Linked DNA regions of Homo sapiens. The protein of the gene in region 4 interacts with the protein of the main gene of each other region in a pairwise test. Each region holds a gene or a part of one and is shown on either strand. Other genes may lie near its edges.

Region 1 (7,025 bases), on a different chromosome or scaffold from region 4:
TAGCCAAAAAGGAAATGACCATGCTGTGGTATTAGAGACAAACTAGAGGAGGAGAGCATTTTAGATAGAGTGTGCAGCAAAGGCCTCTCCGAGGATGTGAAATTTAAGCGTAGGTGGAGGATAAGGAGTCAGTCATCTGAAGGGTAGTGACAGGAAGGTTCCAGCTGTAGAGCCGGGCACGGTGACTCAACGCCTGTAATCCCAGCATTTTGGGAGGCTGAGGCGGGCAGATGACGAAGTCAAGAGATCAAGACCATCCTGGCCAACATGGTGAAACCCTGTCTCTACTAAAAATACAAAAATTAGCTGGGTGTGGTGGCACACGCCTGTAGTCCCAGCTACCTGGGAGGCTGAGGCAGGAGAATCGCTTGAACCCGGGAGGTGGAGGTTACAGTGAGCCAAGATCACGCCACTGCACTCCAGCCTGGAGACAAAGCAAGACTCTCTCAAAAAAGAAAAACAACAACAACAAAAACTTGCTTAGTATATATTTTTAAGTACTTTGTTTTCTGCATTTTAAATGGTCTTTCTTCTAACAATTTGACATATGCCTTTTTAAGGGGATATTTCTGTTAAGTTACTAGAAGGATTTCATTTCCTTTTAAAGAAATCTAGTGTTAACCTTTTCAGTTTCATTAGCTATGAGTAATTTTGGCAAAATTTTAAGATGACAAAAGAAAACCTTTAAAATGATTCAGAGAATACCAAGAATTTATCAGTCATTACTTGCCTAACCACAGCTCATCCCTTGCTCTTACCAAGTATAAAATGAGTTTAAAAACCTGAAGAAACTTTGGTGGAGCTGAATGAAAATGATGCCTCCTAAAGACTTGTTTGTACATATTATATGCAAGATATTCTTACAAAGTCCATATTTTCACCCAAGACATACTGCTTTTTCTTGCTCATGAAATCATCGGACAGCTTTGAATCTGTGTTTGGGAATGATGTAATCTAAATATTCATTATTATTTATTTTTGTCTTGACTTGTTGGCTGAGAGAAAAAGAAAGATAAGATACTTCTGAATTTCCAGTTAAATGTATTTGTAAATGTATTTTGCTCAGAATTTAGTTTTGCTTTAGATGTGCCATCAATGCTTATTTCTCCCTGTGTTTGAGGAGTGACTTTTGATATTATTGAAAATTCAGTTAAAAATAAAAGTCAATTTGTAATTCTAAATTAATTTTTATAACTTGAATTAAAGATTTTCTATGTAGCATGTTTCTATCTTGATATGTTGTATCTTGTTATGGTTTCCTAAAACTCTTATACATCTATTATTCATTCTTATCTCACTCACCCTCTTTTGTTTTTAAAAATGTTGTTCCACATCATAGAGACATTGATTACTGAGAGATTAAATACATATATGTCTCCAAGTTTGTGATTTTCTTCATTTTAATTACTGGTACTATATGGGCATTATTCTTTCTCTGCCTCCTAAAACAAACAAACAAAAATACCAGGAATTACATCAAGATCTGATATACTTACAATTTTGTGCTTTCCAGTATATCTTTGATTTATCTCAAATTCCTTGTAAATAGCATTTCCTGAGAATGGCATCAGCATTTATGATGTGTCAAGAATCAGTTATTTCTCATGCCATTTTGATTTAAAGTGCAAGTAGTCTGTGTGTGTGTGTTTCATACCTATAACTAATATCAAGTTCAAATTTTTCTGTTTCCATTAGTGTTTGTTTTATTGTTTAACATGTTGATATAATAATCCCTTTGGGGGAATGAATGGCATTTCTATGTGAAATTGCTAAATGTAAAGCTTATTCCTTCAGTTCAAGAACTTTCGATTTTACACACACACTCACACACACACACACATATATATTTTCCTGAAGGGCATTACGCATTCCTGCTTATATAAATCAGTTATTGAGAGCCCTTCCAGCCAGCCATGCTCACCCCCATTAAGGTTCTTACATCACTTTGAACAAGTAGCACTTACAAGTTGCGTGTTAATTTTCTGTGTTGCAGTCTGCATTCTGCATCTGACACTGTGCATCTTAAAGGACTGCAAGATGGTTTTCTTATTTGTATCTGTAATAAAATCTGATAGTAAGATGGCATTCAGCATGGATTTTTATATGTAGAAAGGGTGGGCATTAACAGTTTAAGCTTGTCTGTACTCAGGATCAGGTTATTCATATTAATAATTTGTGTGTAGAGTTAAAACTATGATGCTCTTGGAGAAAATTTCTGCAAGGTTTTTCCTTCCTTCCATAAATAGTGTCATATGGTTTGTTCTTTAATACTGGTAATTTTTTTAACCCCTGCTATTGGTGTCCATTTATATCTAGCTCATTTTGTCAAAGCTTAATGTATACAACAGCTTAATGTTAGCTAAAACATATCTTACTAGATAGTTTATGTGAACTTTGTGATAGTGATTTGCCACTCATAGTCCTTTCCTTTTTTTTTTTTAACCCCTTTTCCTTTCCTTGCTGTTGTTTCATCGTGTTGCATTCTGTTCCATTCTGAAATCATGGTAGTTAACATGAGTTTACTGTGGCTGACATGGTTAGAATTACTGCTAATGGAAAAAAGAGAAGTTAACTCTCTTTAATATATGTACCGGCATACATATTTCTTCTTCTGTTATTTGATTAAGTGGGAGAAACTTTGATGTAATCTAGTCTGTCTCTTTTTGTAAACCATCAAGTAAGGTAAGGCTTTATATTTTTTCAAATCTTAAACTGCAGTGCTCAATATTTTACATTAAAAGTTGCAGAACGTAAATTTGATACTTGAAGTTTTCATTAGAAGTAGTAGAACCAAAATAATGTTAGTGAAAAAGCATATATATCATTTTATATACTGCTATTTTCACTATGCAAAAAGCACATGCGTTTGTACAAGAAATAGAAGGGACTGAGCCAAAGCTAAAATTCTTTAAGGCAGTGAGTTTATGGATTTTATTTTTGCTTTATAATCTTATCTAATATCTTCATATGGTTTTTTAAATTAAGACAAATTAGAACTTTGTGTATCTTTGGATATTAAGAATGATATCTAGAAAAAGTTGCCTCTTATAAGCTGTAATTTTACACCCTTATTCCATATTTACTTTTATGCAGTAGATATCTTTTGTTTCTGACTGGCAGAATCCTATAATTCTTTCAAGGTTCACCTCTAATGGTACCCGCCACCCTACATGGAAGGAATTTCTTCCTTAGGTTTCTAATACTACACTTTGTACACACATATATTTTAATACTTATTAGCTAGTTGTGTATGCATTAGACTTTGTGACAGCCTGGCTCATTGAGAAAACACTGACTATGGAGCTAGAACAACCTGGCTTCAAGTCCTGATTCTGTCCTTTACTAGTTTTATGATCATAAGCATATTATTTAATCTTTTTGAGCCTCAATCCTCATCTTGTTATTGTGGCCAATACTACCTGTCTTATAAGATTGCAATGAAGTTTAAAGCATCATGTGTAAAGAGGCCAGCCCTCTCTGGTAGTGTCTAATAACTACTTCTTTAATTAAAAAGACTTGGATTCTGCCACTCCTTTGACATTGTACCTTCTTTTCCTGGAATGTTAGCTGGCTGAATCAGGAAGACTTGATCAAGCTGATTACTAAAAATGTCATTAATTTTTTTATTTGTTATGTAACTAGGGTTTTAATCAGCTTGCAGTACTGACTTAGATTTTTTTTGCAGTCTCTAAGATATTGCTTTTTTAAATGTTATTTTCCACACACTTAGAACCTTGAGAGATTTGTGTTTTCAGAGACACATGAAATATCTTTTTGATTGTATTTTTTATTTTTATGTTTTTAACAGTAGGTTAATATTTTTCAACCTTTTCTTCATTATCCTCCCCCCAAGCTGCCTGTTTAGACATTTCTTCCTAATTACCTCTACCCATGAAATTTTAATTCCACAAATACAGTATATCTGTTTATGTGTAGTACTGTATGTGTATCTATACTTTATACTTAATAGAGTAAAATTTTGTTACCCTTCTCCACAAAGAACCAATTTTCACCCCCTTGGAATGATATCACCCTTGTCAAGAATGCATGCATCAGACCTTTTAGACATGATTTGATGGAACAGATTAATGGTTCAGTGCTTGGGTTCTAGATGGATAACTCTGAGAATGAATTCTGCTTGCTCTGTTGATTAGCTGTGTGACCTTTTGTCATTCTCCTTAGCTTTCTAAAGCTTCTCTTCTTCATCTGTAAAATGGGAATACTACTATTATCATCCTCATAAGGTTGTGCAGTACATTTAGCATATATTAATTGCTCAACATATATTAGCTATTACTTTATCATCTTAATAATCACAACTTTAATTTTGTTCATTGGAACTTAAGACCTGAGTGTTAAGGGGTATCTACCTGTTCTCTTTATCCATTTTTTAAATACTGACTGCTGAAAATGTAAGCAATGTTGGTAACATAAGATACCTACAGAACTCCTTAATAAAGAAAAGCTAATCAGAAAGAAAATTCCTTAGTGTACAAATAATTACATGTAGAGTATTAAAATGAATTTACACAATAGCTTGAACCATAGGTTATTATTTTATTAAGTAATTCTGGGTTCTGTTTTTAGATATTTGATTTAATGGATGCCAAAGCACGTGCTGATTGCATCAAAGAAATAGATCTTCTTAAGGTAATTAATGAACTGTTGACTCTTTTGAACATAACATGGTGATAAAAGTGATTTACTAAAATATCACACTTAAACACAAAAAGGTTTTTAAGACTTATGCTACACTGATTTCAAGTAATATTATATAAGGTTAAATTTCAGTATACTGAAGAATGTAGTTATTTTTTGGATTTATTGTTAAATAACATAATCAGAACATTTGTAGGACCAGCTTTTTTTTCTCATTTCAAAGTAGGAAATAGATAAAATGGGCATAAAACATTGAAGAATTTTTTTTTCTTGACCACCCCAACAAGACATATTCTAAAGGTTAAGTAATATAAATGCAAATTAGCATTATCTCAACATGTATTATATTGAGAATGTGGACTAATCAAAATGGTTCACATGCATTTTCTAATGTTTCAATACTTTTTCCAGACTTAGACAGAGTGCATGTAAAGAGTATGCCAGGAATTAGCTTTTTAGTTTCTCATCTACTAAGAATATGACTGAGATTTCAGTTATTTCTGCACTGCTTCTTTTATAGTGAAGTTTCTTTTGAGAAATACTGCGGCCTATGTTGTATTTTTAACTTTTAGTTAAGACTTCGCTCTTTTTTTATGCCATCCGTTTGTGTTAGTGCCTAAAATGAACCAGATTTATGCAAAAAGGAAGAAAGTAAGGTCAAAACAATGTTTTCTGACTATTCTGTTAGTTGTAGTTATTTCTTGGCACATGAAGTAGCTGGCTTAAATATATGTAAACTTTTACTGTGGAAATAGCATGTCATCATAGAAAATTTGCAGCGAAAACTTTAAGTAGAAAGAAGAAAGTCACCCATACTTTCTGCATAATTTCTCAGAGAAACAATTCATCTTGTATTAATATGTTTAAAGATTGAACAAAAGGATTGCAAATGAGTAGGGACTGATACGTATATTTCTACAAGGTAAAATTTTTCTTAGGGATGATTTTATGAATTGGCTCACATGAATAAGTCCTGTATGTTATTTGATATAAAAGCAATAGTTAGATATAGTATAGTAGGTACCAGCTGTGTTTTGTCTACTAGCTGGAGTTATTCTAGGACCAACCATAACTTCCAAGTAGGAGTAAAAAGGGATACTTTATTTATCATTGAGTGTTCCTAAATGAAAGTTCTCATTTTGAGGATGTAATTTTTAGCAGTTGGCGACCTAATTCTATCATTTACTTCTTGCATCTGTTGATATGCTTATTGGGCATAGCAGTACTTTTAAATTAAGATTTAAACGTAAAATATATTCTTTCTAATAAAGAATATTAAGATAAATTAATTTATACCTAGTTTTACTTTTAATAATTGTAATATTTGTTTCACAATTCACTAAAGAAAAGTATACTGTCATGTTAAGATTTCTGTAATTTAAAAAATACGGTGAAGTTTGTTCTTAAGTACAAAACTATAAGTGACTCTTGGATATTTACAGTAAGAAAACTTTCTGATGCCTGTTTTATTTTCTCAGCAACTCAACCATCCAAATGTAATAAAATATTATGCATCATTCATTGAAGATAATGAACTAAACATAGTTTTGGAACTAGCAGATGCTGGCGACCTATCCAGAATGATCAAGGTAAGTTTTGAAAAAATTGTCTTAATGTTTTGTTTTGTTTTTTTTTCTAATAGAATTGTCTGTTAAACACATAGGGATATTAGATATTTTAAACTAAAGACCTCAATGCAAAGCTTATCTGATAGATATGTAACAAATAGTAGATGGTTAGTGATCATAATTCTGAAACTGGTTTACTTGGTGATGTTTACACTGATCAGCTTAAATATCTAAACACCCCAAAACCAACTTGGAAAGAGGCCAAGATACTTGTCTTCTGTAAGTTGAGTTAAAGTTTTGCTGTTTGATTCTCTGAGCAGACCATGCTTGATCCTGTGTCTCTGGACATGAGTAAAAGGAGGTAGAAAGAGACTCTAGAGCAGCTTGACCTGTTTCTTGGGGGGGAATCCATCAAAGAAAGTGGGATTTGCAGTCAGACCTTGGATATCAACCCCACATAAAAGTTGTTTAACCTTCTTTTCTAAGGGCATATTAATTCATAATTAATATAATTAAGTTGTTTAACCTTCTTTTCTAAGGGCATATTAATTGGGTTTAAGTTCAGCTGCAATTAATAGAAACCCTTAAATAATAGTAGCTTAAAAACTGTTTGTCCTTGGGCCAGTTACTTCTCTGTGTCACATTTTCTAAAAAACACAGTAATAATAGAACCTACTTTATAGGATTGTTGTAATGATTGAATTAATTAGTATTTATTAAGAGCTTAGAAGAATGCCTCACACATTGTAAGGCTATGTAAATGTATCTGCTGCTGCTATTATTATTGTTATTGTTATT
Region 2 (7,684 bases), on a different chromosome or scaffold from region 4:
ACTGCTCTAACCACCTTGGGGACTGCTCTAACCACCTTGGGCACATGTTATCAGGACCTCCTGAGGCTGTGTCATGGGCGTGCATCCTCAACTTTGGCAAAATAAACTTTCCAAATCAACTGATACCTGTCTCAGATTTTTGAGGTTCACAAAAGCATGGTGAATGTGGAAAAAAAAAAAGCCAAAAATATCCCCATCCCAAAAGAACCATGAAGGTGGGCCGAGTGCAGTGGCTCGTGCCTGTAATCCCAGCCCTTTGGGAGGCTGAGGCAGGAGGATCACTTAAGGCTAAGAGTTGGAAACCAGCCTGGGCAACATGGCAAAACCCTGTCTCTACAAAAAATACAAAAAAAAATTAGCTGGGCATGGTGGTGGGTGCCTGTAGTCCCAGCTATTTGGGAGGCTGAGGTGGCAGGATCACCTAAGCCTGGGGAGAATGAGGCTACAGTGGGCCGTGATCACACCACTGCACTCCAGCCTGGGTGACAGAGTAAGATGCTATATCTAGAAAAAGAAAAGAAAGGTTCCCTCACAGAAAATGGGAGTTCACTAACCAGAAAAGGAGGGACCAGCAGGTGAAAACCATGGGTGTTCACTATTTCATTCTCCTCAACTGTAGAGATTAGCTACATGGAGAAATAATTCTTTAGTTACACACCAGGGGAGTGGCTTTAATATTATCTAATTATTGCCAGAAAGACTCAAGGCAAATTATTTTGAAATAAAGTTGTTATTTTTGGCAGATTTTCTCTAATATTTAATTAGCATATAGCTAACAAGTAGCAGTCCTCTGGTGTTTTAAACCAGACTGACCTAGGTACAAATCCTGGTTTGGCCCTATTAGCTGTGTGGTCTTAGGTAGGTGACTCAACCTTCTGAAGTGTCGGTTTCAAGAATAATATCACTTTCTTATAGCAACTTATAGAGTTGCTATAAGGATTAGAGATAATTTATATGAATCACTTAACACAGTACTCAGCATATAATAGGCTTTCAAACAACAAGATGTAGCACATTAAGTTACCTTGGAGTAAATTTTTCAACTAGTTGATCCAGGTTTTTCATCAGAAATTGACATTGTACAACGGACATGACTCAGTCTATGAAGTATAGAAATATGGCAGGGTGTGGTGGTTCATGCCTGTAATCCTAGCACTTTGGGAAGCCAAGGCGGGTGGATCACCTGATATCATGAGTTCGAGACCAGCCTGCCCAACATGGTGTAACCCCATCTCTACTAAAAAATTACAAAAATTAGCAAGGCGTGGTGATGTGTGCCTGTAATCCCAGCTACTTGGGAGGCTGAGGCCGGAGAATCACTTGAACCCAAGAGGCGGAGGTTGCAGTGAGCCGAGATGACACCACTGCACTCCAGCCTGGGTGACAGAAGAAGACTCCATCTCAAAAAAAAAAAAAAAAAGTATAGAAATGTAGTTTTTTATACAATAATTTCTATTCTGAGGGCCTATTCTCTTATGTTGGAAAAAACTAGTTTCAATAGTTTTGGAAACCTCTCACCTACCATAATTTTCTGGAGGGGATCTAATTTCTGGGGGGTTTGAATAGTGCTTAATCATTTGCTGCTTAAGCTGTCTGTTCACCAGGCCTTCACTGTCTTATCTGGACCTCCATCATTAATACCCACAGGTTATTGCTGAGATGTGTCTTACACATGGGCACTCGGCCCCTTCAAATCCAGTGGCTCTTTCCAATACTCTCAGGTCAAGCTTGCAGGGGGTGTGGCTAAGAGAGGGTGTCATGGGAGTCTTTCTGCTGCATCTAGGCCACACTCTTGCCATGAATCTCCTGTCTGTTTCTAACCTGGTCTGCCTAGGTGCATCACGCAGCTGTTTCTGACCTGGAGTTCAAGTGGAGCTCACGGCATCTTTGCTTTTAGGTCTCAAACCTATTGTGTCTTACTACCTTTCTAATATTAGCATTCAGAGCACTAAAAAATAATCTTTAAAAGTTCTATTTAATTTTTAGTTGTTTAATTCCACTTCAGACATTCAAGAAACAGTTCTATTTGGGAATTCTTCATATCCCCTGAAGATTAATGAAAAACAGAATCATGTACAGTTTTGTACAGTTATGCATCATAAGTCATCTTCCATCCAGATATTAAAAAACAAAGACTATGAAAAATAGCATGTTAAAACTGAAATGCCTAAAATTAGCCTTGCTCTTCATCACCTTCAGTAAGAAATGATTGTTGAGTAGAGCAAATGTGTTGTATAGTGACTGCAGGAGCAAGCTTCCAACTGACAGATTATTGTTCCTCTCTATAATGTAAAACTCTAAAATTTTGATTACCACAACTTATTTGAACATGAAAAATTAATAATTACATTTGAAAAAATTCAAATTTATTCTTGTATTTCAAAAGTTCAGATTTATGATGGTGTTACTGGTGGTGAATCTGTATGGGTCTGCAGCCGCCTTAATTCTTGCCTCAGAAGAAAGAATCTGAGGGGCATTAGGCAGAAGAAGAGACCGAGGCAAGTTTTAGAGCAGGAGTGTAAGTTTATTAAAAAGCTTTTGGGCAGGAATGAAAGGAAGTAATGTACACTTGGAAAGGGCCAAGTGGGTGACTTTGAGAGATCAAGTCCAGTTTGACTTTTGACTTAGGGTTTCTTTTTTTTTTTTTTTTGAGACGGAGTCTTGCTCTGTCACCCATGCTGGAGGGCAGTGGTGCGATCTCGGCTCACTGTAACCTCCGCCTCCCGGGTTTACGTGATTCTCCTGCCTCATCCTCCCAAGGAGCTGGGACTACAGGCGCATACCACCACGCCTGGCTAATTTTTTTTTTTTTTTTGGTATTTTTTAGTAGAGACGGGGTTTCACTGTGTTAGCCAGGATGGTCTTGGTCTCCTGACTTCATGATCCGCCCGCCTTGGCCTCCCAAAATGCTGGGATTACAGGCATGAGCCACCGTGCCCGGCCTTAGGGTTTTATATGGTGGCATACTTCTAGGGTCTTGCGTCCCTTCTCCCCTGATTCTTCTCTTGGGATGGGCTATCCACATGTGCAGTGGCCTGCTAGCACTTGGGAGAGGAGCACGTGCAGTGTGTTTACTGCAGTTCTATGCATGACACTTGAGGCATTCTTCTCTTACCAATTGAATGTACCCAAGAAGGTCATATACCAGTTAAACTCCACCATTTTGACTCTTAATGTGTATCCTTGAGCCCACTCACCTGTAAGAAGTACTTTTTAAGTGGTCCATTTTTCAGAAAACAGGCCCCGGCAAATCCAGGCAGCTCCCTTGCAGATGTGACAAGCCGCATGCTACAGACATCTGGGAAGAGTGATAAGACTCACAGAAGTCAGAGGGGAGGGAGAAAAAAAAATAGGGGGTGGGGTGGCTAATCCATAAAAGGAAAGAAAGTTTTGTCATTGGGAAATCAAAACTTAAAGTGGGGAAGGAGACAAGATGTAACCTTATAAGGGGATAATGAAACTTAGGCAACGTTGGGGAAGACTGTAACCCCATAGTACTCAGCCTATGAGGAACCAGGGTAGGGACTTGCACACTAGGTGATAAATTCCTTGTTGAAACTGCACTGGGTGTTCCTGCTCACCAGACACCCGATCTTGCAAGACCGTTATTAAAAAGTGTCTCTTTTGCTGTTCTTCATGCCTCTAAGTCCATTCTTTGGGTTTGGACAGGTGAGTGTGTTTCTCACATCACCTAACTCCTGAGCTCTTATGGGGAAGCTGCTGATAACCAGTTTCAGATGTTTTCTATCTATTCGGAGAGTGCCTTTTCCTGGCATTGGCTGCAACCAATTATTATTTTAGAGAGACAGTTAACAACTGCCTATCACCTGATGGTCGCCTGACATTCCTGGTGGGGGATAGGGGAGCCTGCTCTGCTCATGCCTGACTACCTACTGTAACAATGGTGAAATTTTGCTTGGGCCTTAGGTCAAATATTCATTTCAGAACTAGGCTATTCGAACTTCAGCACAGATGTTCAGAGCCCCTCTAAAACATTCACTTACTCCTTAGTGGACTCTTGGTAGAAACAGTAAAGAAATGAATATTTTCCTTCACACCTGCCTTCAGCACAAAAACTTCCCTGTTTTCACTGTGTGATTCATGTGAACATTGATATAATTGCTAGGTATGCCTGGCCCTTCCCTGCTGGTTTCTTTCGAACCCCTTGTCCCTCCACCTCCATCGCTTCCCCCCTTTTAAAGTTGTGTTTTGCATCTTGAATTTCTGAATCAAGAGGGATATAGTCTCCAAGTTTCTTCTGCTCCTAAGGTAGTTGGCACTTGTGAGGTCGCCTGAAACACTCCTTGCTGGTGACAATGACCATAAACCATGGGAGAAAGATATCCAATAACTAGAAAATTAAGCAAGGGGTTATTCATACAATCTTTTGTAGTTTTTAGAATGCAACCTCATATTTCCAGAAAATTCTTTCGTTTAAAAGCCAAAGACAGGCCAACAACCAATATGCACAACTTATTTTTAAACTGTAAAACAAATACCTTATTACAGAAAATTTACAAAACAAAGAAAAAACCGACACGCCACCCAGAGACTGAAATTATAGATAATTCCTGGCTGTTTTCCACTCTGGCTTCCTGCGCCTTTGCAACCAAGAATAACCTTCCCGCGCTGCCGGAACCGCGGCGCAGGAGGAGGCGCTGCCTCGCGTGTTGCGCCGTTGCTATGGTAACCGAGGAGGCCGGGGCCCGGGTGTGGTGAGTCTAGGGGTCCTGGCGCTGTGGGCCGGGGTGGGCACTTGGGGAGGAGTGCGATGGGGTAGACGGACATCTTCCCTCCAGGCTGCTCGGGCAGGGCTGGAGGGGAGTGGGCTTCAATCTCAGCGTCCTCACACTGCTTCTGTCCAGAGCTTTGCGCACCGGTCTCCTACCCCGCCGGCAGCCGCAAGGGATCGCAGAAGGTCCCTAGGGAATTCAGGCCGAAGAGCAAACTCTGGTGCCCTGAAGTGTCCGTTGCCCCCTCGCGGGACCTCCTGGATCACCTGGCGGCGCTGCCACTTTCTGTATCCTGTTCCTCAGGCCTTCTCTTTGTTTAACTCTGTGTGCCCAGGGTTGCCCTTGGGGTCCTTCTCCTTGAGCTGGGACTTGATTAAGCGACTACTTTTTTTTTTTTTTTGAAGAAAAAAATCAGTTGGCTTAAAAGGCACATTAGGATCTACTCCTCTATCACAACTTCAGGCTGCGTCGCCTGCCTCCTTGCCCTTTGTTTATGCTCTTCCCGTTACCTGGATTGTCCTTTTTTCCTCCTTTTAAGACTCCTACTCTTCACTATCGAGGTTTCACCTCTTCTGGGAAAACTTTCTGAGACCGCCACCCAGAATTGAATGTAGATGTCCACGGTTTTACTTTCAAAGCACTCTACCTACCTCCATTGAATCCCTGATCTCACTCTGTCATTGCTGATTTACTTGTGTCTTCCCTACCAAAATGTGAGAGCCTATGGGGTAGGTGCTATGACCTATGTGATTTTCTATTGTGGGTGGCTCGAAAGCAATCACATTCTATAGTTAAAAAGAAAAGTTTATAGATTTTTCTACACTTATTTAGTAAGGCAGACCAGGTGCTATCCTCATTTCAGAAAAGTCACATAATTAGTAACAGAATCAAGACTAAAGCAATGCCATTCTGCCTTCATAGTTCCAGCCTTCCCTCTTCCCTCCAATGCTCATATTCTCTGTGAAACTTCAGTTATATGTAGCAAGGTTACAATTTTGATGTATGTTATTACTTTTGTGGGCAAAGAAAATGTAATTTATTTTTGTATATGACTGATCTGGTTCCTTTCATGAGCATTTACTTATTGATTATTAGGAAAGAATCTAAATGTCCGATTGGTTTTAAAGTTTAGCTCAATCTAGAATTGATTTCTTTGGCTAGTGTTTAATTTCTCTTATATACAAATATTTAGGTTATCAGGTATCTTCTTGGATTCTTTCCTTGAGATGGTGCCCTGGCTATGTGGATGGCTCACGGAATCAGTTATGGGGACGGGTCAGGGTCCCTTTGCCTTCCCTTGGCTCTGGGGGGTGATGTTCCTGGTATACCGAGTGCTCCCTGCCCTATGGCTTTCTTGGTTTTAACCTTTGGCTTATATACCTTGTGAACAGGTATCTCCTGGTTTTGTCAGGACTCGGTTGAGCTCCCTGGCTCACTCAATTGCGCTGAGTTCCTGCTGTGACTTCCCTTCAGCCCTGACTGGAGTGGTTTGCACCACAGCCCTCCCTCCCTGCAAAGCCTCCTTGCCCTGCTATAGCAATTGAGTAGGGCAAGCATCCTGCAAGACTTTCCTATTTCTAGGTCTCATGTATATCCTAAGGCAGTGCTCTCAAACTTTGTTGTCTCAGGACTCCATTTTACTCTTAAGAAATGATCCCGAAGAGCTTTCCTTTATGTGAGTTATGTCTTTTAATATAGTATTACATATGTTGTAAGAATTAGAAATTAAACTGAGGATTTAAAAAATGTTTATTAATTCCTTAAAAAATAAATTCACATGTAACATAATTATATATTTCTCATAAAAATATTTTCCAGAACAAAAGAATTAGTTAGAAAGTGGCATTATTTTACATTTCTGCAAATGTCTTTAATTTCTGGCTTAATGGGAGACAGATTCTTATGTCTGCTTCTGCAGTCTATCCGTTGCAATATGTTGTTTTGAAATATGTAAAGAAAATTCCTCCTTACATAGATATATAGTTGGAAAAGGGAAGAGTATTTTAATAGCTTTTTCAGATAATTGTGCACATTTTTGTGACTGCACCAAAACTCTGCAAGTGGTAGTTTCTTTTTCTTTCTTTTTTTTTTTAAGATGGGGTCTCATTCTGTTGTGCCAGGCTGGAGTGCAGTGGGGTGATCTTAGCTCACTGCAACCTCTGCCTCCTGGGTTCCAGTGATTCTCCTGCCTCAGCCTCCTGAGTGGCTGGGACTACAGGCGCCTGCCACTATGCCCGACTAATTTTTTTGTGTGTTTTTAGTAGAGACGGGGTTTCACCATATTGGCCAGGCTGGTCTTGAACTCCTGACCTTGTGATCCGCCCACCTCAGCCTCCCAGTATGCTGTGATTACAGGTGTGAGCCACTGCTCCTGGCCACAAGTGGTAGTTTCTTAAAGGCTGGTTGCAGTGTGGAATCTGAAGCCATGTCAATGAACGTTTCATACTGTGTTACATTAAAATCTATTGATCTGTCTTATACTTTGGATCTTTTACCCATGCTTGATATTGTAACATAATGGAAAATGGCAGGGGGAGTGAAGCTGATTTTGTAAAGAAGAAAAGCAGTCATTCAAATCAAGCAAAATGTTGCTTCATTTAGTTATACCAGTTTTCCAAATGTTAACATGTTTCATGCTGTAATATTTTTAAAAGCCCACTTTCATTAATATCATCTCTGATCTCATCATAAAAGTATTGGGAAGTCGTTGGCCAACACATGGCCAGTATGAGTTTTCTAAAATGCAAATTGCAGCTGGGCACGGTGGCTCACACTTGTAATCTCAGCATTTTGGGAGGCTGAGGTGGGAGGATCACTTGAGGTTGAGACCAGCATGGGCAACATAGCCAGACCCCCTGTCTCTACAGAAAAATTAAAAAATTAGCCTGGTGTGATGGCACACATCTATAGTCACAGCTACTCAGAAGGCTGAGTTGGGAGGATTGCTTGAG
Region 3 (7,025 bases), on a different chromosome or scaffold from region 4:
GCTAGAATCAGGTATTTTTTAAATCGCAACAGGAGAGTTGGCCAAATGCATGGGGTTTCTGAGGAACAGTACTTCTGTTTATTTTGTAAACAGCTTTGTTTCAATCTTCTCTCTTTTTTTTTTTCTAAGTGTGCTGAACCATCAACAAGAAAGAACTTGATGAATTCTCTTGAACAAAAGATAAGGTGTTTGGAAAAACAAAGAAAAGAGGTAACTTAGAAATATTCGCTAAAGCCACAGGTGCCATGGATTAATGCTGAGGATAAAATAATGTATTATCCTTGTGCCTTTTATTTTTGTTATCAGGTCACAGTATTTATCTTTAAGATACTGGACTGCACTATTTTGAAAGCAAACGCCTTCTTTCTTATTCACCTGTATGTTTCATACTTGTTGTCTCAGTGTCTGTGCAGTGACGAATGAAAAACGACAAAGTCATAAGTCTGGTAATATAATCCTAATTTTCTCAAAACTTAGATGTTTCCTCCACACAGACCAAGTTACTTTATCCTTTATGCCTTTATCGTTTGTGCCTTATGACCTTTACCCTTTATGCCTTGCAACTTGACACACCTTGAAACTCAAGGTTTCTTGAGTTACTTGAAAAGTCTTTAAGTATAGTTGATTTAGGTGCTATGACTTCATGAACTGGGCATCCAAACACATGGGAGTTAAAAAGCATTATCATAAATAAAGTTTGTTTCTAAAATGTTCCTGGGAATTAATGGGTATTATTTGGAATTTTATTTTTCTGAGCTTAATGAATGTTAGAACCTCTTTACTCTTCTTGACAGAGGAAGTAGTGAAAAGTATAACAATTTTAGCACTCTGTATATTGTCAATTTTGTAATTCCTTCTTTTTTTTTTTTGAGACAGTGTTGCTCTGTCACCCAGGCTGGAGTGCAGTGGCACGATCTCAGCTCACTGCAGCCTCTGCCTCCAGGGTTCAAGTGATTCTTGTGCCTCAGCCTCCCAAGTAGCTGGGATTACAGGCGTGCACGACCATGCCCAGCTAATATTTGTATCTTTAGTAGAGATGGGGTTTCGCCATTTTGGCCAGCCTGGTCTAGAACTCCTATCCTCAAGTGATCTGCCCACCTCAGCCTCCCAAAGTGCTGGAATTACAGGAGTTAGCCACCGTGCCCAGCCTGTAATTCCTTTTCTAATTCATTCTGTGTACTACATCTTTCATGTTCTCTTGCATGGTGCCTTCTACTCTTCTTTGATACTTGAAGAATATTGTGACCTTCTGGAAAATTATTGAACGATGGCAGAGTAATGTTACTATAGTATACACATGGGAATCCCTAAAATGCCAACAGAGTAACTCTCAATATAATAATATTATACAGTTTCATACTAAATAATGATATGTATTTTCAGCATAAGAGTTACCTAGTAACTGCCACTCTGGATTCAGTAGTTTGCTTTTTAATTAGGAGAAAGTTTTGCTACTTTTTAGTCATTATGACTGTCTTCTCAGTGTCTGTTCCCTATAGATAAGCGTTGGAATTTCTCTTAATGCAGAAAACTACAAACTTCCCCAACAAAAAGCCAACCACATATCATAGCACTTCTTCTGCCTTCTAATTAGCAGATAGTCTTAAGATCTTTAAATTATTTGTAGCCTAAAATGCATCTAAATATTGTCCTATGACGAAACTATAATTTCTTGAAAATCTAAATTTTCAAAATGGTGATATTACCTATTTGTTGAGTATTTATTATAAATCATGTGTTAATCTTTTAAAACACATTATTGCAAGAAAATCGTGATCAGTTAATGGAGCCTAGGCTTTGTTAGCATAAATTCTGCTTTAAAAGAGCTGGAAAAAATATTTCATTATAATCAGTGTAAGCACAAAGAAAAATACGAAAAAGTTTGGGAAAAGAACCTCCATGCATTAAGAAATCTTACAGACAATCATCAATACTTACAAATTTTTATCAGATTGTGGTTGGATTAAACAAAGAAAATGAAAATCCAAATAACTAAAAAAAGTTAAAAGTTACTGATAAACTGTTCAGCTGACTTGTCAAGATATACCTGAGACTTACTGGTTTTTCTTTTCTTTTCTTTTCTTTTTTTTCTTTTCTTTCCATGAGATGGAGTCTCACTCTGTCGCCCAGGATGGAGTGCAGTGGCACAATCTCGGCTCACTGCAACCTCCACCTCCTGGGTTCAAGTGATTCTCCTGCCTCAGCCTCCCCAGTAGCTGGGACTGCAGGTGCATGCCACCACGTCCGGCTAAGTTTTGTATTTTTAGTAGAGACGGGATGTCACCATGTTGGGCAGGCTGGTCACCAACTCTTGACCTCAAGTGATCCCACCTGCCATGGCCTCCCAGAGTGGTGGGATTACAGGCGTGAGCCACCGGACCCAGCCAGTAGTTTTTCATATACGAACCAGTTATAAACAGTGAGAGTGTGTTCAATTTAATCATCCCAGCACAATCAGAACTTGATGGAAAAAAATATTGTCTTCATCCATGGCTTCTAAAACCTTAATAAGCTCAGAAAGTAATTTCTTTTTGACCAAACTTCCAAATGGGCAGAAATTCTTTGTTGATTCACCAAATTTTAATGATTTCAGCTCCTGGAAGTTAACCAGCAATGGGATCAGCAATTTAGAAGTATGAAAGAGTTATATGAAAGAAAGGTAAATACCTCTCTCTATTCGGTATTTTCTTTAAAGCCATTATCCTGGTGGGGCCAATTGTGTGAAGAGTCTCATTCATTTCAGCTACAAAGAGCTTTGTGGATAGCCAACTGTTGGAAAATGACGGGAAGGGTGCTAAGTGTAGTATTGGTCTCATGGCACTGAAAATTAATGAACGGTGTCAGTGAGTTGTCTTGAGCAATAGCTAAAGAAAGGTGCAAAAATGGCCCCCAGTGATGTCTCAAGAGTTCTTGTGCACATTTATCGTGGCTCACAGAGTATCCCAGCCTTACCTTTGTCACTAGAAGCCACAAATACACAAAGTTATATGTGAGGTGAGATATGGTTTAAAGTCCATACTGTTTACGCCAGGTTAGCCCTAATTCTTTAATTAGATAGCATGACCTATTTTCCACAAATAGAGAAACAAATGGTGGTAACAGTGAAAATGTGAGTAAAAATGGAGCAACCTCCTCTTCCATCTAAAGCATATTTGCTCTCAAGAAGCTCTGGTGAGAAAGGGGCTTTTGGAAGAAAACCTCCTTTAATACATAAAAGACAATTTATAATTTAAAATTATTCTATTTTCAAAAAGAGATAAAAAGAGCAAGTACTTTCCCCTAAATAATTCAGTATTAAGAAACTTGACCATGAGTATTGTAATATAGCAGCATTTTTCCTTTCTTCCTCATTTTGTTACCCAGAAGTATTGAATTTAGAAGGTGCAGGATAATGTTCCTGCTGCACCAGGCAATGGTCAGGCAGCCTTGCAATATCCCTGCTGGGGCAATCCGGATCTGTAAATGTTAAAGATGATGATCCCAGAGAGAATGCTTAAGCTGCTTTCTCGAACGGCTTGCAGGTGTGTGAAGACAGTGTTAGTGATGGCTATAATCTCCATCTTGGAAGATGCATCCATCTCTAAGATTCTCCCTCTGGACTGTGGCCACTCTGAGGACCTGTCACTCTGTCATCAGAGTGATTTGGCACCTAGTAGGAGGTCAAGTGCTGCAAATTACTGATAAATTAAAGGCCATGTCTGTTTTTCTCTGGTGTAGGCATATGCTACTTAACCTGCTGCCCCTCATTGCCCTTTCCAGACCAGGCTAGGCTCACCTGGAGAGTTGAGAATAGAATGACAAACCTACAGATTCCCCTGGGTGGGGTCTAAGTCTTTTATCCCCTCTGAAGTAGGGGTGGTTTGGAGAAAAGAAGGAAGAGCTGGGTGGTTTGGAGAAAAGAAGGCTGTTTTGGTGCAAGGCCAAGCTCCCTTTGAAACGCGAGTATCCCGATCTGTGTTCGGGACGGTGGGAGCTAGAACCTCTCCTTAGGGGACGTCCTGGGGTGGGGCGTTTCTGCCAAAGTTCATAGCCTGGGAATAAATCCAGGGGCTTGTGAGCTTCAGAGAAGGTATCTGCAGCTGTCTTTGAACGACCTCCTCAGGTAGCAGAGCTGAAGACGAAACTGGACGCCGCGGAAAGATTCCTCAGCACGCGGGAGAAGGATCCGCATCAGAGGCAGAGAAAGGACGACAGGCAGAGAGAGGACGACAGGCAGCGCGACCTGACCCGGGACCGGCTGCAGCGGGAGGAGGTGGGCGGGGCCCGGGTCCTCGAGCCCGGAGGATCCAAATAAAAGCAAAGGGGCGGGGGGATTTCCTGTAGAAAACCTACCGTTTTATTAAAATCAACTCACTACTGAGCAACGACCGATGTGCAAGGGTGCATGGGTTACGCAAGTCCCCAAGAGCCATGAACAAGGGTCACTTCTCTAGAATAAGAAGGAAGGAGATTCTCTGCCGGCTTCCTCCTGGTTTGCATAAATAGGCAGACAGTCATTCCCCAGTCCCTTCCAGGAAGAAGAAAACGGATCCATAAATTTGCTAACTCTCTAGGGCATTTCAGCCTAGGAGAAATTTTTTTTTCTTTTGCTTTTATTCGTATTTATTATTTTTATTAGTAGTGTTCATAATAATAATATGGCAATACCTTGTATTTGTGCAGTAGCTTTTCAAGCTTACAGAGAGATTTATATATGAGGTCTTACTTCTGTCACCATAAATTTATGACATTTTTTAAAGCCTTCGTCCTCATTATCTCATTTAACATTCTTGGCCCACCTGTGAGCAAAATATTATTTTTGCTATATTAAAAATGAGAAAGCTGAGATGTAAACAAATTGAATTGCCCACGTTGATGAAAAAGGACTTGAACCCAACCTCCAGATTCTAAAGCTCTATCAGTCCCTTGCTGAGAACTGGATGGTGACAATTGAGATGACAGCTTTTCCTGAAGAACACTTTTTCTTCCTGGTTTTACTTTCAATTATTGGACTTCATGAATATTGTAGAAAATGGGAGGAAACCTTAAACTCTAATGGCCCCTCGTTATTTTAGGTATAGTAAGAAAAAACAAAGTGTAAAGACTCTGAGGGGAAATCTTATCACTGATATCGTGAGGCAATGGCAATATTTTAAAACATGTACAAATCTTAAGGCAATGTCTGAAATTCGCGCAGACAATGCCAGTCCAGGTTTTCCTATCTTGCTGAGGATGTCTTTGTCACAGTGAGTCAGGAAAACAGAGTTTAGCAACACTCCCTTTCTGCCATGTAGCAGTCATTTCCTTTTCCAATTACACTCTAGCCAGGAATCTGAGTAATTTTTCCCTCAATGCAGTTGGGACCATTATCTTATTGGAATAATTTTCTCTTAAATTATGCTAAATTAGAAAATAATTGGCTTATTTTCTAAGTGTATATGTTCATTCTATTTAAATAAAAGCAAATAGAAATATTTTCCCTTTTAAAGAAAATGAATTACCTAAAGCGGATTTCTTAAATTTAATAATCATATTGGGAAATATTAGTTACTCAAATAACACACTTTAACACATATATTAGCTATTTTTGCATGTCAAGTTACCTATTTTCTGCAATATTTATTTTACTGGGTTAAAATCTCAATCTCATTAAGAATCCAATTTACTTCACAAAATGTTTGCTATCTATTATACAAAATTAAGAGGTAGGAGATATTGTCTGAATCCAGAGCCTGTTGATGTTTACGCAGCTAACCTTCAGTTGTTTAAAACACTGCACTTCTGGATGACAATTTTAGATTGTCATCTAAAATTGGAGGAGTGGTGGCAGTTGGACTAGTTGATTTCTACCTTTTAAAAATAATAATCACAACAATAGAGTGCTCTAAATAATGATCTGTAATGAAAGGTCTTATTGGCCTAAGGATTATTCTCTTTTCCCTCTTTCTAATACAGAATGATGCAGGAATGAGCTTTGAGATATTTAGTATTGTTTTCTCACAATGAGAGTTTTTTCTTTTTAAGACTTTCAGCTATTTTTCTTAATCACTTATCCATCACCTAGTGACAGTATATAAGGACTTGCTTATCCTGCAGACCCATTTGTCTGATAATTGAAAGTAAGAATTGGGAATCCAGCACTTTGGGAGGCTGAGACGGGCAGATCACGAGGTCAGGAGTTTGAGACCAGCCTGGCCAACATAGTGAAACCCCATCTCTACTAAAAAATATAAAAAATTAGCCGGGCGTGGTGGCAGGCACCTATAATCCCAGCTACTAGGGAGGCTGAGGCAGGAGAATTGCTTGAACCTGGGAGGCGGAGGTTGCAGTGAGCTGAGATCACACCATTGCACTCCAGGCCGGGAGACAGTGTGAGAATTCGTCTTTAAAAAAAAAAAAAAGAATTGGGAATTTTGATTTTTTTTTTCCTGGGGTCACAAAATTTCTAAGATACTTCAGTAAATTCTGATAAAAGAAAGATTCCTTCAATCCTAATTCTAGTGTGCATCCAAAGAATATTGCTCAAATGGAACATTAAGTTTAAAGTCTTGCAGGTCCTGTTTTTATTGTATTTCAGAAGGGTGACCCCTCAATCTGCCTGCCATGGCTGATATATCAGAATTCCTACAATATCATCTCATTTGACTTGTACTGACTTTTATTTTCTTTTCTTGGTCTTAACTTCAGAAGGAAAAGGAACGCCTAAATGAAGAATTACATGAATTGAAAGAAGAGAATAAACTTTTAAAGGGAAAAAATACTCTTGCGAACAAGGAAAAGGAACATTACGAATGTGAAATAAAACGCCTCAATAAGGTATCAGTCAGGTCAAGCATGGGAGATTAAAATGAGAAGTCCCTGCATAAAACATTCTTACTGACAGTCGCAACAAAATCTAGGCTGCAGTGTGGGTCCCAGCCTTGGAGGCTTGCACAAGAAATTATCTGTGATTTTATAAATCACTCCTAGCTGCAGCTTTCAGTCATACTTGGCTAAGGAGGCTTTAGAGAATTTTTGTCCCTACAAAGATTCATCATGAGAAAGAG
Region 4 (7,309 bases):
ATGTACAAGTGGCTGATGGGGACCACTTCCACCACCTCGATGCCAAAGACCAGCTGCAAGTACTCGGAGGCTTTGCTGAAGATCACGGGAAAGAAGTCCTGGCAATTTCTGAGGACACTCTCCAGCATTTCTGCCTTTGTGACCGGCTCCCTGGCTCGATACTTGAGGAGCAGAAAATGAACCAACTCAACCATCTTCCTACTGATTGCTGCTTGGAACTCGGACTCCAGGTCGGGAAACATTCTTGGCCCCTCCTCTTCTTGGTTGCTGGAGCCCTCATCGGATTGTCTCCAAAGAGTGTAGTTGATGGTAGTCGAGAAGCTGGAGGCTCCCTGAGGACTGTGGGGAGGACTCGGTGAGTCGGCAGCAGGCACCTCCCCCAGGGTAACTTCCACTAGAGTAGAAGAGGAAGAAGCGGTCTGCTGCTCCTCAGTAGCAGGAGCCTGCGCACCCACCAGGCCCAGGGCCTCTCCTCGGGCCTCAAGGCCTTCTTCAGGCTTGCAGTGCTGACTCCTCTGCTCAAGAGGCATGATGACTCTGGTCAGGGCAGCAGGCAGGAGTGCGGGCAGGAGCTGGGCAATGAAGACCCACAGGCCTGGGGAGAGAAGGAGCGTGTGTGAGGCCTTAGGTGAGAACTGAACTGAACCTTGGAGGCTCTGACAAAGGCTTACTTACAGATCTTCTCCTTCAATGCTCCTCCAGTGCCTCGGGTCCTACTTGTCAGCCTGTCCCCCTCAGAACCTGAAGGAGGAAGTGGGAGGGCACCTCAGGGTACAGCCGGCCAGCACATGCTCAGGCTGCAGGACTGAGAATAGGGAGGGTGAGGCCAGGCCCTCTGGAGTCCCATTTGTTCTGGGCGGGTGGGGCCCTTGGTGTGCATTCCAGGCAAACCTTCAGTGTTGGCACTGTCTGCGTCCCCTCTGCTCTGTGACCTGAGGACACTGACTCAGACCAAGGCCTCACTGCCTGGTTCCTGGAGCTCCTGATTCCTGGGAGAGGAATGCACGGGCCTTCAGTGTGCAGACTGCAAGCACAGCCACGGATTCCCAGAAGTCTCAGCAGGGTTGGCCAGACTCCGTGAGGTCCCCACTCTACTTGGGTGGAGGGTCCCCTCTGTGCTCACTCAGGGCCCTCACCTTTCTCCTTGTAGGGCCTAATCCCACCCTTTTGCTGGCTTGAGAATCTCTCATGTCAAGAACTCACATCCCTGATATGGTACAGAAGGAGATGAGGGGACCCACATCTGGCCATACGTGACCAGGTCCTCCCGCGAAGGACAACGAGAGATGTCCAAATTCATTGGAGTCCAGGTGTCCTGGGTGACGAGTCCGCTTGGTCCTCACGTCCACTCCTGGCAGGGCCTGAGACCCTCCCTCTACTGACCTGACTCCAGCCCCTTCAGACCAAGGCCTCCCCTTCCCTGACATCAAAGATCCCAGGATAATGGAGGGACTTCAGCTGACAGCCCTGCCCAGGGTCTCTGAAGTAACCGCAGGGGCAGGGCAGATTTCTATGGGGCCCCCTGTCTGCATTCTGGCCCAGGAGTACCCTCAATCCTACCTCAGGCTCTCCACCTGGATGCTTGGCAGATCCTAGAACCACTGCATCTGTCGACCAGATGGGGGCCCCTGTGTTGACCTGAGTCACCTTCTGAAAACAAGGTCATCAACTCCCTGAGATCTGGAAACAGAAGTGAGGAGGGGCCACATCCTGTTACCCCCACGTGCGTTGTCCAGGGCTGACCCCTTTGGTTCTAGGGTGAACGTTATGATGGCCTCCTGTGGGTTACTCATCTTTACTCCTGCCAGGGACTGCCCTTTCTCAACCCCCAACCCCCTGAAATGAGCAGACAGCTCCTCTTTACACCAACACCTTATCTCCCTGAGGGTTCCCCAACCTCCTGCCTGTGGTACAAATGAGATTGTCACTTAGGGCCATCCCTGATCAGGTTCCCCCAGAGCTAAGAACAAGGGACGGCCAGACTCTGTGGCATCCCTTCTTTCTGGGCCGGGGGTATCCCCAGTCCTCATGAAGGGGGCACACCTTGGGTCCGGCAGATCCTGGGATTCCTCCCTCTGCTGACCTGAAGTCCCAGCCCTCAGACCACAGCCCTCAACTCTCTGTCACCCTGAAGGTGCAATGAGCACGGGGCACATTCGGCCACTGTGCCCAGGATCCCCCAGCCCAAGGTTGCCACTGATCTGGACTCCAAGGTCCCCTCAGTCCTCCCTCTTCTTCCTCCCCTTGACTCCTCGCAGGGCTGGGCCCCAACCCCCTGCTGAAGTGGGTCTGCATCCCTAGGATTCCCGCGGCTGAATGAAAAGGTGGCTCAGTTTGAGACAGGGGTACAGTGGGCCCCCTGTCCTGGCATGCTGGGTCCCCTAAGGACTCCACTGTCTTCCAGGAGGGCCTGGGCCCTTCCTCTGCATCCCAAAGGCCATACTCACGAGACCCAACCCCTTCCCTCCCTTAGCCGTACATGTGAACGTCAGGATCCGCGTGCTTGGCCGCCATTCCCGGAGCTTCCGTGGGTTGATTGCAGGGGCAAAGCCCGGATTCTGCCAGGATGGTGGTGGGGGAGGAGATGGGAATGGGGTTTGGGGGTGGGGTTGGTGTTTGAGGGATGGGGGTGGGGTTGGTGTTGGGGGATGGGATTGGTAGTGAGGGTAGGGGGTGGGTTGCCCTCAGTCCCCTCTTGGGGTCCTGACCTTGATTCCTGGCTGAGTCTGGGCCCTGAGCACTTCTAACCAGCCCTGCCCTGGTCACACAAAGCTCTTACGCCAGAGTTCCCTGCGGTTAAAGCGGCGGGGGGTGGCGGGGTGAGGTGGTGGCGACTCAGCCTGAGAAGTCTTCCCCTGCAGGGTGGTCCAGGCCCGGCAGCAGAGGCAGCGCTGGATTATTGGGGGCCCTCTGTCTGGGGTGAGGCCCGCCTCAGTCCTCCCTCGGCGTCTTACCTTGCCTCCTCACGGAGCCTGCGCCTGCTTCCCTCCGCCGACGTCAGGCCGTTGCTCAGGGCGAGAATCTCGCTGTCCTCTGACCTCCAATGCGCAAGTCAGTGGCGTCACATCCGGGCCCGTGACTTCCCTGGGTTCACGGCAAGGGTGGAACCGGATTCTGCCCGGATGGGGATCTGGATGGGGGGGTGGGGGTAAGCATGAAGATGGTGTTGGTGTAGGGGTAGGGATTGGGACGGGGATCCTGAGGCTGTAGATCCTGGTGGGGTCGGGGGAGTTGGGGGTGGGAGGGGCCTTTGGTCATCCCTCAAGGTCCTGACTTGGATGCCAGACTGAGCCTGGACCGCCATCCTCTGCCGATTGTGTTTGCTCCCCTCAGACCAAGTCTCTGACTCTGAGTCGGCCCGAAGTGGCATTGGGGGGAGGGGTGTGCTCGGGGTGAGATCATTGCCAGTGTGTACCAGGGCTGACAAGAGGGGCTGAGCTGGATTCTGTGGTCCCACTATGTGGGTGAGGGTGGATCCTCAGTCCTCACTCAGGAGGGTCCTCTTCCTCACTCCTGGCTGTTTGATGAAGGAATGGGTGGGAGATGCTCTGTTTCTGTCACCTCTGAGCATCTGCGCATCTGCGCATCTGCACCCCTTGTAGAGAATGGCTGCGGGTGCCAGGCCAGGTGCTCCCTGCAGGGCAGGAGCTCCCGCGATGATAGTGACCTCTGGGAGAAGACGCACACCTTCCCACGGGGGCTCCTCCCCAGCCAGAGCTACACTTGGCAAACCTTTGGTCCTAAATGATTTATTCTCTGAATTGAAGAAATACGGTTTACATATCTTCTAAGTATATATGTAGGTAGCAATATATATATTTATTTCTATGAACTAACACCTACCCTTAGTATGCATGATTCACTCTGATATCCTAGTCTACTTCCATTCCAGTCTTTGTGTTCTGTTGAAAGAATTTTTTTAAAAAACATAATTCCTCTCCCACTCTGTTGGTTTCAGGTTGTTATTAGCAGAACTCTGGAGCCATGCTGCCTTAACAAACCCAATTTTCCTGGTGGACACTGCTATTACCTAGGGCTCTTGGCATCGTGTTTTCAGGGGCTGCCTCAGATTGTGCAATGAAGTGAAGTGGAAAATTCAAAACTTTTATTCTACCCATTCTTTCATCTGCCGTCTAGGCAGGCTACAAACCTCCCCAACATCTCTGCCGCTAACCCCCTCCAACAGACACTGCAAGTGTCACACACAAGTACCAGCTCAACACAGTCTCCAGTCTCACTCTGGGCTTTCCCTGTTTTGTTGTGTAGATTTTCTTGCTGATACTGGTGTTTTACTTTCTGTTTCCATTCTATAAATTTACAGGGTTGATTTGGGAAGCAGAGCACAGCAGCCCAAATTTGCTTGTAATGTCGGCGGCTACAGGTAAGGCACTAAATTGTAAATAATTTAAGCTGAGTTTACATTTTTACACTGTTGTGTTCCCCGTGAATGAATATGTTATACTCCTCTATGGATTTCAAGCTCTTTTTTCCTGAATATGTCAGTATACTTCGGTAGTTGCCTCTATAAACAACTTATACATTTTTATTAGGCTTCTATTCAGGTAATTCTTGGATTTTGTTGCTATTGCAAGTGGCATATTGTCTATCAATTGTTGTAGTTAGTTATTGCTTTCGTGAGGTGAAGATTTTGATTTTGCTGTAGTAATCTGTTGCATACCTCGTTCTGAAGGCCGATGCACTTGAATATTCCGCATACCTTTTCCTTTGAATTTTCAAGATCGATAATGGTATTATCACTAAACACTACATGTTTTTCCAATGTTCATACCACTCACTCATTTCGGTACTTACAGCTCTTTGTGTCTCAATCCTGATTTCAAATGTAGAGATAATAGGCTACATCTACTTCTCGTTCCTGACTTGAATGATAATTCTTCGAACATTTGACATTTAAGTATGTTTGCTGTTGATTTTAGGAAATGGAAGTTCTCTTTCAGTATAGGTTGCCTAAATATTTTCTTTTTTACCATGAATTCATATTAAATTTATTTAAAAAGCTTTTTCTGTACCCGTTGGCAGGATCAAATTTTTTTCTCTTCCATTTTGTATGTAAGGAATCACAATGAAACAGATGTTTTTTCTAATGTTAAATCATATTTTATTTCCTTGGGCAGAGCCTGTTTATTCGTTTAATGTACTACTAATTTATGTAGGATATTTACTGCTGTGTAAGAGAGCTTACTTGATGTGTTCTTTTTCCATCAGGGGAGGTATGTGGTCCTCATCTGGTTTTTAAATCCAGGAGGGCTAGCCTGGGAGAATGAACTGAACAATTGTCAGTCTTTTGTATGTTCTGGAAGAGTTGATATAAGGCGGTGGTTAGTTTTCCCTGATCATTTGGTAAAATTGGCCTCCAAAGCTGTCTAACCTGGAATGTTTGAGGGTGGCTTGAGCTTTGAATATTGTACAGTTTCTGTTGTATAGTTAAAGTTTTCTTTTCCTCTTTGGATCAGTTTGGTTACTGATTTATTTTATTTCTACAAAGTGGTCAGTTTCATTTAGGATTTCACTTTTAATGGCATATTTATGATAAAAAAGTTTTATTAGGGAAAGCCTTCACACATACAGAATAACAGGAACGAATATAATGAACCCAGGATACTTGATACCGAGCATGAACATCTTTAAATACACAGCAAATCTGGTTCCAGTTAAACACTCGCCTACCTGCATATGAGCTGCTGGAATAACGTGGAGTAAATCTAAGGCATTAGACCATTTCATCTCTAAATAACTTAATATGCATTTTTAAAAGATAAGGATTTTTTTAAAACAAAAAGCCGATAGTTTTCATATCTAAAAAATTAAATAAATGATTATCAAATGTTCAACTATGTTACACACTTATCTGGCCAACTTAAACTTTATAAAATATATATTTCTTTGATGGAGTACAAAATGTGTTAACTTTTCCCCCCACTTGCTTCATTGTGGTGGTTTCATATATCTATTATACAACTAGGTGTGTGTGTGTGTGTGTGTGTGTGTGGAACATTCTACCTGCCGTCCCGTGATTCTCCAACCTCTTAAGTTACTTTTAAACTTTACATACATTAAGCTTCACTCTTTGTGCTGTAAAGATCTATGGGTTTTGACAAATGCCTCGTGCCATTGTCTTAGTCCGTTTGGGCTTCCATAACAAAAATAGTGATAGACTGGGTGGCTTATAGACAACGCAACTTTATTTCTCACATTCTGGAGGTTGGGAAGTCCAAGATCAAGGTGCTGGCAGATTTCATGTCTGGTGGAGTCCTGCTCCCTAGTTCATAGACAGCTGCCTTTTCCCTAGATCCTCACATGCAAGAAGGGATAAGGGATCTCCGTGGAGTCTGTTTTATAAAAACACTAATCCCATTCATGAGGACTCTGCTCTCATGATCTAGTCATTCTCCAAATACCCCACCTTCTGCCTAATACCATCACCTTGGTAATTCAGCAGATGAATTTTGTGGCAACACAAATATTCAGACCAAAGCAAGCACGGAACCACCATTGCAGTATTATGCATACCAGTTTCACTGCCCTGATAAATTCCCTTGTGCTTGTCGGATAAACCCCATGGCCACCACTGATAGGTTTTTCATCTTTATAATTTTGCATTTTCCAGAATGTCATATAAATAGAATCTTATACTATGTAGCCTTTTTAGACTGGTTTCTTTCACTTAGCATAATGAACTGAAGAGTCATGTATAACTTTGTGTGGCTTGGAACTTATTCCTTTTCATTGAGGAGTAGTATCAATGTCTGGTTATATATATATATATATATATATATATATATATATATATATATCCATTCACCAAATGAAATACATTTTGGATGCTTCTATTTTTGGTGATTATGAAATAAGCTATTGTATACATTCATATACAAATTTTTATGTAGACATAAGTTTTCAAATCAATTGGGTAAATTGATTGAGTATGGCTGCTGAATCTTGTGCTAAGTCTATTTTCATTTTTTTAAGAAAACGCCAAACTGCCTTCCAAAGTGGCTGTGCCATTTTGCATTTCTACCAGCAATGAAGGAGAGTTTCCGTTGCTCCACATCTTCGCTGGCAATTGTTCTTGGTCTTGTATTCTTTGTTTTGGTTTTCTATGGATTTTGGACATTCTGATAGGTGTGCAGTGGTATCCCATTTTAGTACACAATTATCTAATGCCAAAGGGTGCTCAGTACTTTTATTATGCTTATTTGCCATGTGTATATCTTCTTTTGTGTAGTGTGTGTTCAGATCTTTGACTATTTTCATTTTTTCTATCATTGAGCTTTAAGAATTCGCATAT

Evidence for each region.
Region 1: the proteins of MAGEA2B (region 4) and NEK7 interact in binary tests that used the Homo sapiens proteins (3 or more experiments, as listed by UniProt).
Region 2: the proteins of MAGEA2B (region 4) and ANKRD45 interact in binary tests that used the Homo sapiens proteins (3 or more experiments, as listed by UniProt).
Region 3: the proteins of MAGEA2B (region 4) and TNIP3 interact in binary tests that used the Homo sapiens proteins (3 or more experiments, as listed by UniProt).

Annotation. Positions count from the first base shown.
Region 1 is NC_000001.11:198,257,988-198,265,012, forward strand, and holds part of NEK7 (serine/threonine-protein kinase Nek7), read left to right. Parts: intron 1-4,587; coding exon 4,588-4,650; intron 4,651-6,137; coding exon 6,138-6,248; intron 6,249-7,025. UniProt on the Homo sapiens protein: Protein kinase which plays an important role in mitotic cell cycle progression. Required for microtubule nucleation activity of the centrosome, robust mitotic spindle formation and cytokinesis.
Region 2 is NC_000001.11:173,666,848-173,674,531, reverse strand, and holds the start of ANKRD45 (ankyrin repeat domain-containing protein 45), read left to right. Parts: upstream 1-4,680; 5' UTR 4,681-4,715; exon of another isoform or gene 4,716-5,461; intron 5,462-6,124; exon of another isoform or gene 6,125-6,408; intron 6,409-7,684. UniProt on the Homo sapiens protein: May play a role during cell division.
Region 3 is NC_000004.12:121,154,321-121,161,345, reverse strand, and holds part of TNIP3 (TNFAIP3-interacting protein 3), read left to right. Parts: intron 1-129; coding exon 130-210; intron 211-2,593; coding exon 2,594-2,659; intron 2,660-4,102; coding exon 4,103-4,252; intron 4,253-6,666; coding exon 6,667-6,795; intron 6,796-7,025. UniProt on the Homo sapiens protein: Binds to zinc finger protein TNFAIP3 and inhibits NF-kappa-B activation induced by tumor necrosis factor, Toll-like receptor 4 (TLR4), interleukin-1 and 12-O-tetradecanoylphorbol-13-acetate.
Region 4 is NC_000023.11:152,710,328-152,717,636, reverse strand, and holds the start of MAGEA2B (melanoma-associated antigen 2), read right to left. Parts: upstream 3,010-7,309; 5' UTR 2,955-3,009; intron 2,791-2,954; exon of another isoform or gene 2,709-2,790; intron 2,559-2,708; 5' UTR 2,480-2,558; intron 1,681-2,479; 5' UTR 1,561-1,680; intron 990-1,560; exon of another isoform or gene 892-989; intron 742-891; 5' UTR 676-741; intron 596-675; 5' UTR 531-595; coding exon 1-530. UniProt on the Homo sapiens protein: Reduces p53/TP53 transactivation function through recruitment of HDAC3 to p53/TP53 transcription sites. Also represses p73/TP73 activity. Proposed to enhance ubiquitin ligase activity of RING-type zinc finger-containing E3 ubiquitin-protein ligases.